Regions from separate parts of the Homo sapiens genome. Here region 2 is linked to region 1. The links come from fine-mapping of genetic effects on gene expression. A gene starts in region 1. The other region holds a variant in brackets. All regions are shown on one strand. Distances are from middle to middle.

Region 1 (4,390 bases):
TTTTCCCTCCAGTTATTTATCCTGTTTTCATCCACCACTCTTCGTCTTTTCCTTAGATCTCCAGTTTTTTAGCCGTATATTACCCCCTTTCTCTCTAATCATCCATTGCACACAGTGAGGTTTATTTGTAAATCTAACCCAGGCACCAACTAACCAACCAACAAACAAAAACAGCTAAGGAGTAGCCACTGGAACCTGGAACCATGCCTACACTTACAAAAATTTGATTTTCTGCAGAAAAAATATTTTGACTCCTACATTTTTGGACTTCATTAGAAGGACCTGAAATGGATGACACCAAGCTGTTTGCCTAAAATAATGTCCCAAGCCTGAATTGGCATGGATCTTTCTTGAGATTAAAATAGAAACTTGTTTTGCTAACTGAAAACAACTTAGAAATCAAAGAGCCATTTAAGTTGAAACCATTATTTTTCCTTTCCTTGAAGAAAATTCCTGTTTTTACACACACTGAATGATCAGGATAGTGAATCACCCTACCACAGAACTTTCCATTAAAAATTTGAAGTTGTAGAAACCTCAAAAAGAAAATGAAGATGGGGGGAAAACGTTTGTAATGTAGCAAATGAATTGAATAAACATTTATGAGCACCTACTATGTGCCAGGCAGTGTTCTAGGTGATAAAGATACCTGCCTTTGTACAGCTTGCATTCTAGCGGAAAGAAAACATACAAACAAAAAATATGCAAGTTATATAGTAATATAAAAGATGAGTGGTATGGAGAAAAGACAAAGTAGGACAGGCCAAGGATCATCAGAAGGAGGGCAAGTTAGAGGTTTAAATAGGATGGTCATGACTGGCCTCTTCAAAGAGGTGTGACATTTGAGCAAAGACTGAAGGAAGTGAGGGCGTGTGCCATGTAGATATTTGCAGAGGGCAAGTTGCAGTTTTAAATAGGATGATCATGATTGGCCTCCTGGAAGAGGTGACATTTGAGCAAAGACTGAAGGAAGTGAGGGTGTGAGCCATGTAGATATTTGGGTCCAGATAGAGAAAACAGCCAGTTACTGGCCCCAAGGCAGGGGCATGCCTGGAACATGCAAGAAAGGCAAGGAGGCCATGGACTGGAGGAAGAGAAATGAGGACATTGAGAGGTACGGGAGATGACAGATGATCACTGCACAAGGCTGTCATTCGAGGTAAGGTTGGGAAGAGGGGTGACTTGATTGGGCTCATGTACATCTTAGGATAATCATGTTTTCATTTGAACACAGTCATTTAGTACAATACTTTTTACTCTGCAACAACTGAACAATGATTACTTAAAATGGTTTCTAAGTGATCCCCTCAAGATCAGGCACCACAACACTACTAGGCAGTAGCAGCCCTTCCTCTCTGGCAGGCACTCATCCCTAGAGGGGCAGTCCTGTCCTAATGTGCTCGGGAGTTGAGCTGATAGAGACAGAAACAGTCTGCTCATTTCTTCTTCAAAACCCGACTGGAGAGCCAAATATTTCTTTTGGTTAGTTACAAAATAAAAAATATGCCTTTGCCAACTCTGCGGGAAAAGCAAACTCCCAGAGTTTGCCTTCGCTAATTTGTCCAAGTCGTGCTGTGGTTTTAGTAAATGCAGACACTGCTCAGCTCCAGCCCCATAAACCTCTCTGCTCTAGGGCTTCTCCGCCCTCCGGTGAAAGCTACTGCTCGCCCCTGCAGTCACCACCTGTTCGGGCGGAACCTGCGGAGCGTGCACCTACGCCTCGGGCTCCTTTCCTCCTCCACTCCCCTTTCCTGCTGGGCACCCTGCTTTCCCTCTCCCAGAGAGGGTTTGCAACTTTTCTCCCAGGCTGGGGCTCGCCCTGCTTGGCTAACCCCCAAGAGCCACTGCCGTCCCGCAGCGCCCCTGCCCCCGAGTTGCCTGCCCCGCTGGGCCCCCGGGAGGAGCGGAGCGCGCTCACCCTTCGCCCGGGGCTGGGAGGGCGGCGAGTCGGGCGCACGCGCACCCCCTGCCCGCCCCTGGCGCCCCTCCCCGCGGGCGGTGCAGCTACCCCTGCAGCGCCTCCCCTAGCTAGAAGGGAGCGGGAGGGGGCTCCGGGCGCCGCGCAGCAGACCTGCTCCGGCCGCGCGCCTCGCCGCTGTCCTCCGGGAGCGGCAGCAGTAGCCCGGGCGGCGAGGGCTGGGGGTTCCTCGAGACTCTCAGAGGGGCGCCTCCCATCGGCGCCCACCACCCCAACCTGTTCCTCGCGCGCCACTGCGCTGCGCCCCAGGACCCGCTGCCCAACATGGATTTTCTCCTGGCGCTGGTGCTGGTATCCTCGCTCTACCTGCAGGCGGCCGCCGAGTTCGACGGGAGGTGAGCTGGGCCCCGGGGCGCCCTCTCCTCCTTCCCGCGCTAATTTCACACTCACTGTCTTGGGTCACTTTTCCCCGCGGGGTTTCGTGGTCAGAGAGGCGTCTCCTCCATCCAGAAGTTGGGCCACCGCACAGCGTGGCGCGAGGAGAGCGGTCCAGCGGCTCCGAGTGCCCGCCCGAGGCGGAGAGGGCGCGCCCTTGCGAGTCTGGGACCCCATCCGCGGCCCCCCGAGGGCGACTCGCCCCGGCTCGGGAATTAGGACTGAGGGAGAGGAGCCGCTGGAGCCTGGGATCTCGGCTCTGAGGGCGCGGTTTAGCCACCTACGCCGAGGTGACGCGCGAAACATCCCTTACCCGGGAAACTCCCGCGCCTGAACTAGACGGCTCTTCACTGGGGAAGCTTCCAGGCCCCCGGGGGGAGGCCCGGGCTCTGCTCAGGGCTCTCGGGGCCGCTCACACAGAGAGTGGGTGCGAGTCAGCGACTGGGCTACGGGGGAGATTTGTGGGCCTCTCCATTTGGTTTTCTTGAGGGAAGGAGACTCAAAATGAGGACCGGAGGGTGGGCGCTCCGTGAATGTGAGCATGAGTGTGTGGATGTGTGTGTGAGAGCGCACACACTGCGCCGCTCCTCAGACTCGGGCGAGCCTGACGGCGGCGTGCTGTGACAGGTTCCAACAACCTCGGGCCGCGTCTCCGCTGTCACTCAGCCGGTCCTCCCGCGCTCCGGGGCCGCTCCGGTGTGTGAGAGACACTGGGTCTGTCGGGAGGGTGTGCTCGGTCCCCCTCACCTCTGTGCAATTACAGACTAGGCTCGTCCCGGGTGCAGATGGCTGCTGCGAAAAGAGGTTTTACTCTGGCGCACACCGTCGCCCGGTCGCCTTCCTTCAGCGACCTCTGCCCCCACCCCTCCGTGTAGGTCCCTGCCTAGTCCTAAAGAAAGATGCCGCACCTGTTTTACCTTTAATCTTGGAACGAATCAATTCCACAATTGATTCGCTTTCTTGTACCCGGAGGCGAACGGAGGGGAACCAGTGGAGCGCCAAGAAAAAGCACAGCTGCTTGTTCACTACCTGGTCGGAGGAAATAGAAAGTTCGGGGTTATTTTGTACTTTGGGCCTGGGGGTAGAAAGGCAGGTAAAAGAAAAGGGGAATTGAAAAAGATAAGGAGACTTTAAGAAAACGTGATAGCAGCCAGAGTGTAGACCTTTTTATTTTATTTTTAAAAGCAATTCTGTGCTCACATTTGGGTATGTTATGCATTTCTTGCACACATATTTGCAACAAGAAACCCATCACAAGATATGCATATGATGTGAATGCATATAGCTTTTTGTAACTTTAAAAAGATGTCTAAAACAGCAAATTAAAATGTTGATACCCAGAGGAAAAAAGTCATTTAGGTGTGACTCTAAACAAGGAAACAATTTAGCAAATAATGTGTCAACGTGTAATCAGGTGGATAAATCTGTATCCTGAAATTACTTTCTTTAGGCATTATTTACATTAGAGAGGAAAATACTATGAATTGTTGATCTAAGCACGTTTCAAACCACAAGGATACTTGAGATATCAGCTACACTTTAAACTCTCCTTGGTTTTATTTAGACTTTTTTCTAGTACTTTTTTGTTTTTTTTGTTTCTGCCACAGTTATGTCTCAAAAAGAGCTCTGTTACACTTGATTTTTGAGAAACCTTTCTGCTCCTTCCCCCATCCACCTTTTATATGAGGCAGAAATTTTTTCTGCTTTGACATGTCTTACTTAATACTTTTCAGTTTATGGTGAATCAGTCAAACCTGGCTTTCACCCCAGTAACAGGTGTGGGTCTTTGAGGAATCTGTTTTATTTCAAGCTTCAGAAACTATCCTGTGAGTGGCAGCCTTGAGAATTGTTGGTGTTAGCTGGTGCTATTTCTACTTAAGAAAGCATCTTTCCCTCCCGTTTTTTCTCCTACCCTTGTGTGTTGGGGGATGGGGTATTTAACTGTCTGAAATTTGACATTAGATCATAGCAGAACTATTTCTGTGAAGGTGTTTTAACCTTAAATTTCTGCAGGCATAAAAGAGTTTGTAGAAAATT
Region 2 (4,390 bases), 95 kb after region 1:
GTCCGGCTAATTTTTTTGTATTTTTAGTAGAGACGGGGTTTCACCATGTTGGTCAGGCTGGTCTCGAACTCGTGACCTCATGATCTGCCCACCTCAGCCTCCCAAAGTGCTCAGCTTCTAATACCCACAATTCTACTCTCACTGTTCATGGCCTCAAATTTGTTTTTTAGCTCCCACATATGAGTGAGAACATGTGATATTTATCTTTCTGTCCCTGGGTTATTTCTGAGCCTCAGTTTTTAAGAAGTCTGTTCTTTATTTTAAGAAATGAGAAAGATGTAACTACTGTTTCTACATTTGCATTATGGCTAATTTTTAAAGGTATCTTTTTGGTCTAATAAGAAGTATGTGGGAAATGGACTTTTTCCAATATCACTTGATAGCTTGATGAGAACATATTGTAGAGACTCTATTGTTCTGGCCTTTAAGGAATAGAGAGTTCTGTATCTCCAAGGTATGCTTTTCTCCAAGCCCATGAAGGCCTTCTAAATGCCCAACGTTGCTACAGTCTATGTGGTGAATAGGTACTTGTTTGAGTTTGACATGGGCATTATTCTAACTGTAATTTTAGATATTTACACCATCATCTACTCATTTGATTCCTTCATGGATTTCCTTATAGATAGCCTCTGAGACCAGTGACTGAATACCCTATATTTGAAATCCACTATAGGAGATTGCTTACATTAGTTTTCTATTGCTACCTAACAATATTTCCACAAACAGCAGTTTAAAATAACACACATTTATTATCTCATGGTTTCTGTGAGTTAAGAGTCTGGGTGGGCATGGTGTCAGTAGATTCTCTGCTTCAGCATCTTCCAAGGCTGTAATCAAGGTATCAGCCAGGGCTGTGGCCTCATCCAAGACTCAACTGTGGAAGGATCCACATGCAAGTTCAGGCAGTTGTTGGCATAATTCAATTCCTTGCATCTGACTCATTTTCTTGCTGGCCGGAGGCTGCCCTCAACTCCTTGAAGTCTCCCACAGTTCCTTGCCACATCGGATTCCCCAACAGGACCACTTGTTTCCTCAGTGCCAGTAAAGAAAAGACCCCAGCAAGATGGGTTCTAAAATCATACATGGCATATGCATATAGTCATGTACATGTCATACAATGGTCCATTTAAATACATCTGATTTGTATATAAAAAAGTATCTTCTGTTCTGCCCTAAAATATTCTTAAATATGATCTGTGTTTGAAGTATCCGAATGGGAGTCAACAACTTAGAATCCTTCCTCTAACTCCTCTAAAATCATGAGAAACTTTCTCTGTATATGACGCATTTTCACAGGGCTATGAGAATCCTGGGAGGAATACTTTGCAAGATACTGTTTCCACTTTGATGTGCTCGCTTTTACCCTATATCCAAAAGCAAATGTCCCTCTATTCATATTTTTATGATATCACTGAGGAACTGGCTGCCGTAAATTTTCTCCTTAAATGAGTCACACTCCTATGCAAAGAATACCAAGTTATTTTTATTAAAATGTTAAGTCTCAAGGTATTTTTAAAAATAGCATTAATGGGGGGTTTGGTCAAGTGTGCACTGGTATTCTTAACAAGTCTGTATCTTGTCAAGTTGGTTCCAACTTGATTAATCCAAGAAGATTAGCCAGCTGTCCTAAACAAGTTCTTTTTTGCTCCAAAGTTTGTGTGGCCTTGTTAGGACACCCCTGGAAAGGCCTTTTAAGACTCACTGTTAAATACTGGCTTGATTCCCACCCTCCTGTTCTGCTATAGAAAACCTGTGATTTCCTCGGGCATGAAGGAAATCCTCCCATTAGAGGGAGTGGTTGGCAACTCCTGATATGAGGTCACTGGCTATTTTGTCCCAAGTGTAAGATTTCCCTTTGA[C/T]CTGGCAATGCCACCTCTAAACTCCCAGCATTTTCAAAGGAGATGAAAAATGCCTTATTGAAAACTGGATTAATGTAGTTATTTGGTTAATTTAAAACCTGAACAAATCAAATAATGAAGATGCGATCTTAGTTTATATCCAATGAAACCCTTAACTGTTCCAATAAACAAGTATTAGTCATTTAAAAAAATTCTAGTCTCAACAAACCTCATAAAATGTATATTTCTGAGTGAGTAGTTGTGACTTAAGAATGCCAGCCATTCCCCTCTTTTACTCCTTCTATAACCTAAGTGTGTTTTGGTCAGAGTGCATAATGTTTAGTCATTTAAAAAAATGTCAACAAGATAATGGATACTTCAGTCTCTAACTTACCTTTCAATATATTTCCTATTTCTAATGTTTCCTTCTAACCTTACACCCCTGTTCCCTGCCTATTTTCTCTTCCTTGCCATTCTCATTTGCCCCTAGTCTTCCCATTGGTTGCTTGTTCTTACAACTCTTACATGTGTATAGAGATGAGAGTTCAGAATGGGGAAGGGTGGTGAGTGCTGTTTCCCCTTTCCCTGGATTCCCACCAGCTCATGATTTTCAGAACTTCTACCTTCCCTGAAGGATCAGGGAAGTTGCTGCATTCTCTCTCCTCTCTTGGGTGAGATGTCCAGGTATCAGGTCACACTCTTGGTCTATGAGTCCCAACTGAGTGAGGCTAATTGAGCCTTCCTTCTGGCTCTCTCAGCCCTATGCAGTCTCATGGTTTCCTCCATCTTGTAAACCCTCAGAAAAGACTTTGCCCCTGGAAGGGGGAGGGTGGTGAAGTTCTGTAATCATCCAGCTATTCTGGCTAAGAACGTCTCTTGGGTCAAGGGTGGGCTGGGAGCAAGCTTATTGAACAGGATGCCCCAGGGCCAAAGGAAATGATATGATGCCTTTACCCATCTTGGGTAAAGGTCCAGGCCTTTGCAATCTTGCTTTAGCAGTGATACAACTGGCATTTTGGTCTCTGACTGTGTCTTTTTCAGTTTATTCCTTATCCAGAGGAGAGATGGGTGCTATGAATTAATGTCCTTAAATGCTAATAACGAGCATCGAGCTGGCTCTCCTCTCCCTTTTCCCTCACAGGGAAGAAAACCTGAGGGAAGCAAGTGGGGGTTTTGTGGGCAGCAGAGCTTGTGAGCAACTTCATGGGGCCTGATCAGGAAGGCAGACAAAGAGCCGGATGTCCTGTGAAATGAGGGCACTTGGGATGTGGGCCACCAGGCCAAGTTTAGTTCTTCCTGCTTTCAGCCAAGCACAGGAGCTAGGCCAAAGCTCTGGTGGAGACTCTGGGCAGGACGCCAGGCCTGTGAAACCTGCTAAAACAGGCCTGGTGAGTATCCAGGGCACAGCATGAGAGAATCAAAAGGTGGACATCCCCAGTGAGTCAGGCTGACAGAAAAGGACAGCTGGTCATGATCCCTGAGGGAGCCAGAGCTGACTCAGCTTCAGTGCTGTGGTCTCCAGTGTATTTGAGGTAGGAGCAAAACCGTGTCCCTAACTTGTCATATACTCGAAATTAAGAGTCATGACTTTGACCAACTCAGACTTCAGTAAGGTGACCACTTTCTATATTGGAACTCAAAGATTCCATTAAAAAGACGGAAAAGGAACCTAGATGTCCAGTGGCCTGATGTAGAGAACTGATTATCTACACAGAATCTAAAACATCCTGCTCCACCCAAAGTGCGCATCAAAAAGAACTCCCCTCCAACCTCCTGTTAGCATTTGCCTCGGTTTTAGCTCAGCAAAGGTAATATTCTTGTGCAAGCAGAGAAGGAAAGGTGAGTCTATATCCTTTTGGTGACATTTCCTTTTGGTGATGGGAGCAAGCTTATTGAACAGAATGCCCCACACCCAAAGGAAATGATATATGTGTCTCACGACTTCTGTGAGGCCACTATAAGCTCCCAGAGCATCAGTAGAATAACTGGGCCCTGTTGCCATGACAGTGTCATCTCGAGCAGCGGCCGCACTCCTGCAGAACCTACAGTTTGAACTCTGTCTCTCTGGTCCAGTCCGTTCTTCTGTAGAACTGTGTTTGCCTCGGGGTGTATCGGGTAGAGTGAGGGAGAAGCAGCTGCAGGGGCTGACACTGCCCCTACTGGCACTGACTCTGCCTGATGGTACCTCATCCCCATCCTTCTTCATGTCCTCCTGGCTCATGGGCCCAAGAGGCCTCTCGTTATCTACTTTATCACAGGCTTTTCCCCACAACCCATTAACGGTCAGCTCTGCCAATTGCCAACTGTAACCTTGGGCAAATTAGTCAGCCTCTCTGACTCTGTTTCTTTTTCCTAAATAAGAAATGCAATACTTCCTCTCAGGGTTTATGTGCAGATCCATTTGAGGAGTGTAACATTTGTATAGCACTTAACATAGCACCTAGCCACAAGAGGCATTCAATAAATAGGAAGCCATTTTTCTTATTAGCAGTATTATTAAGATTAATAATAAATGGAATTATATTTGTAATAACAATAGTAATGTACCATTA

Direction of the effects. Alleles are on the strand shown, and positions count from the first base shown. SD is a standard deviation of normalised expression in the study named.
For the expression in subcutaneous fat of the gene that starts at base 2,061 in region 1, allele T in region 2 goes with a lower level than allele C (moderate effect, 0.62 SD a copy in TwinsUK).

The links. PIP is the estimated chance that this variant, and not a neighbour inherited with it, causes the effect. A credible set is the group of variants that fine-mapping cannot tell apart.
Region 2: its variant is the best candidate, but not a certain one, in a credible set for the expression of NPNT in subcutaneous fat (TwinsUK, PIP 0.52).

Annotation. Positions count from the first base shown.
Region 1 is chr4:105,893,411-105,897,800 of GRCh38, forward strand. It overlaps NPNT (nephronectin), which reads left to right and starts at 2,061. Exons shown (of 12, transcript NM_001033047.3): 1 at 2,061-2,313. The coding sequence starts at 2,243. RefSeq lists silencers at 770-819, 1,744-2,313, 2,474-2,683, 2,922-3,216.
Region 2 is chr4:105,987,942-105,992,331 of GRCh38, forward strand. No RefSeq gene overlaps it. Among named protein-coding and RNA genes, the nearest start is that of NPNT, 95 kb to the left of the region's middle. The variant C/T (reference allele first, on the strand shown) is at 1,860.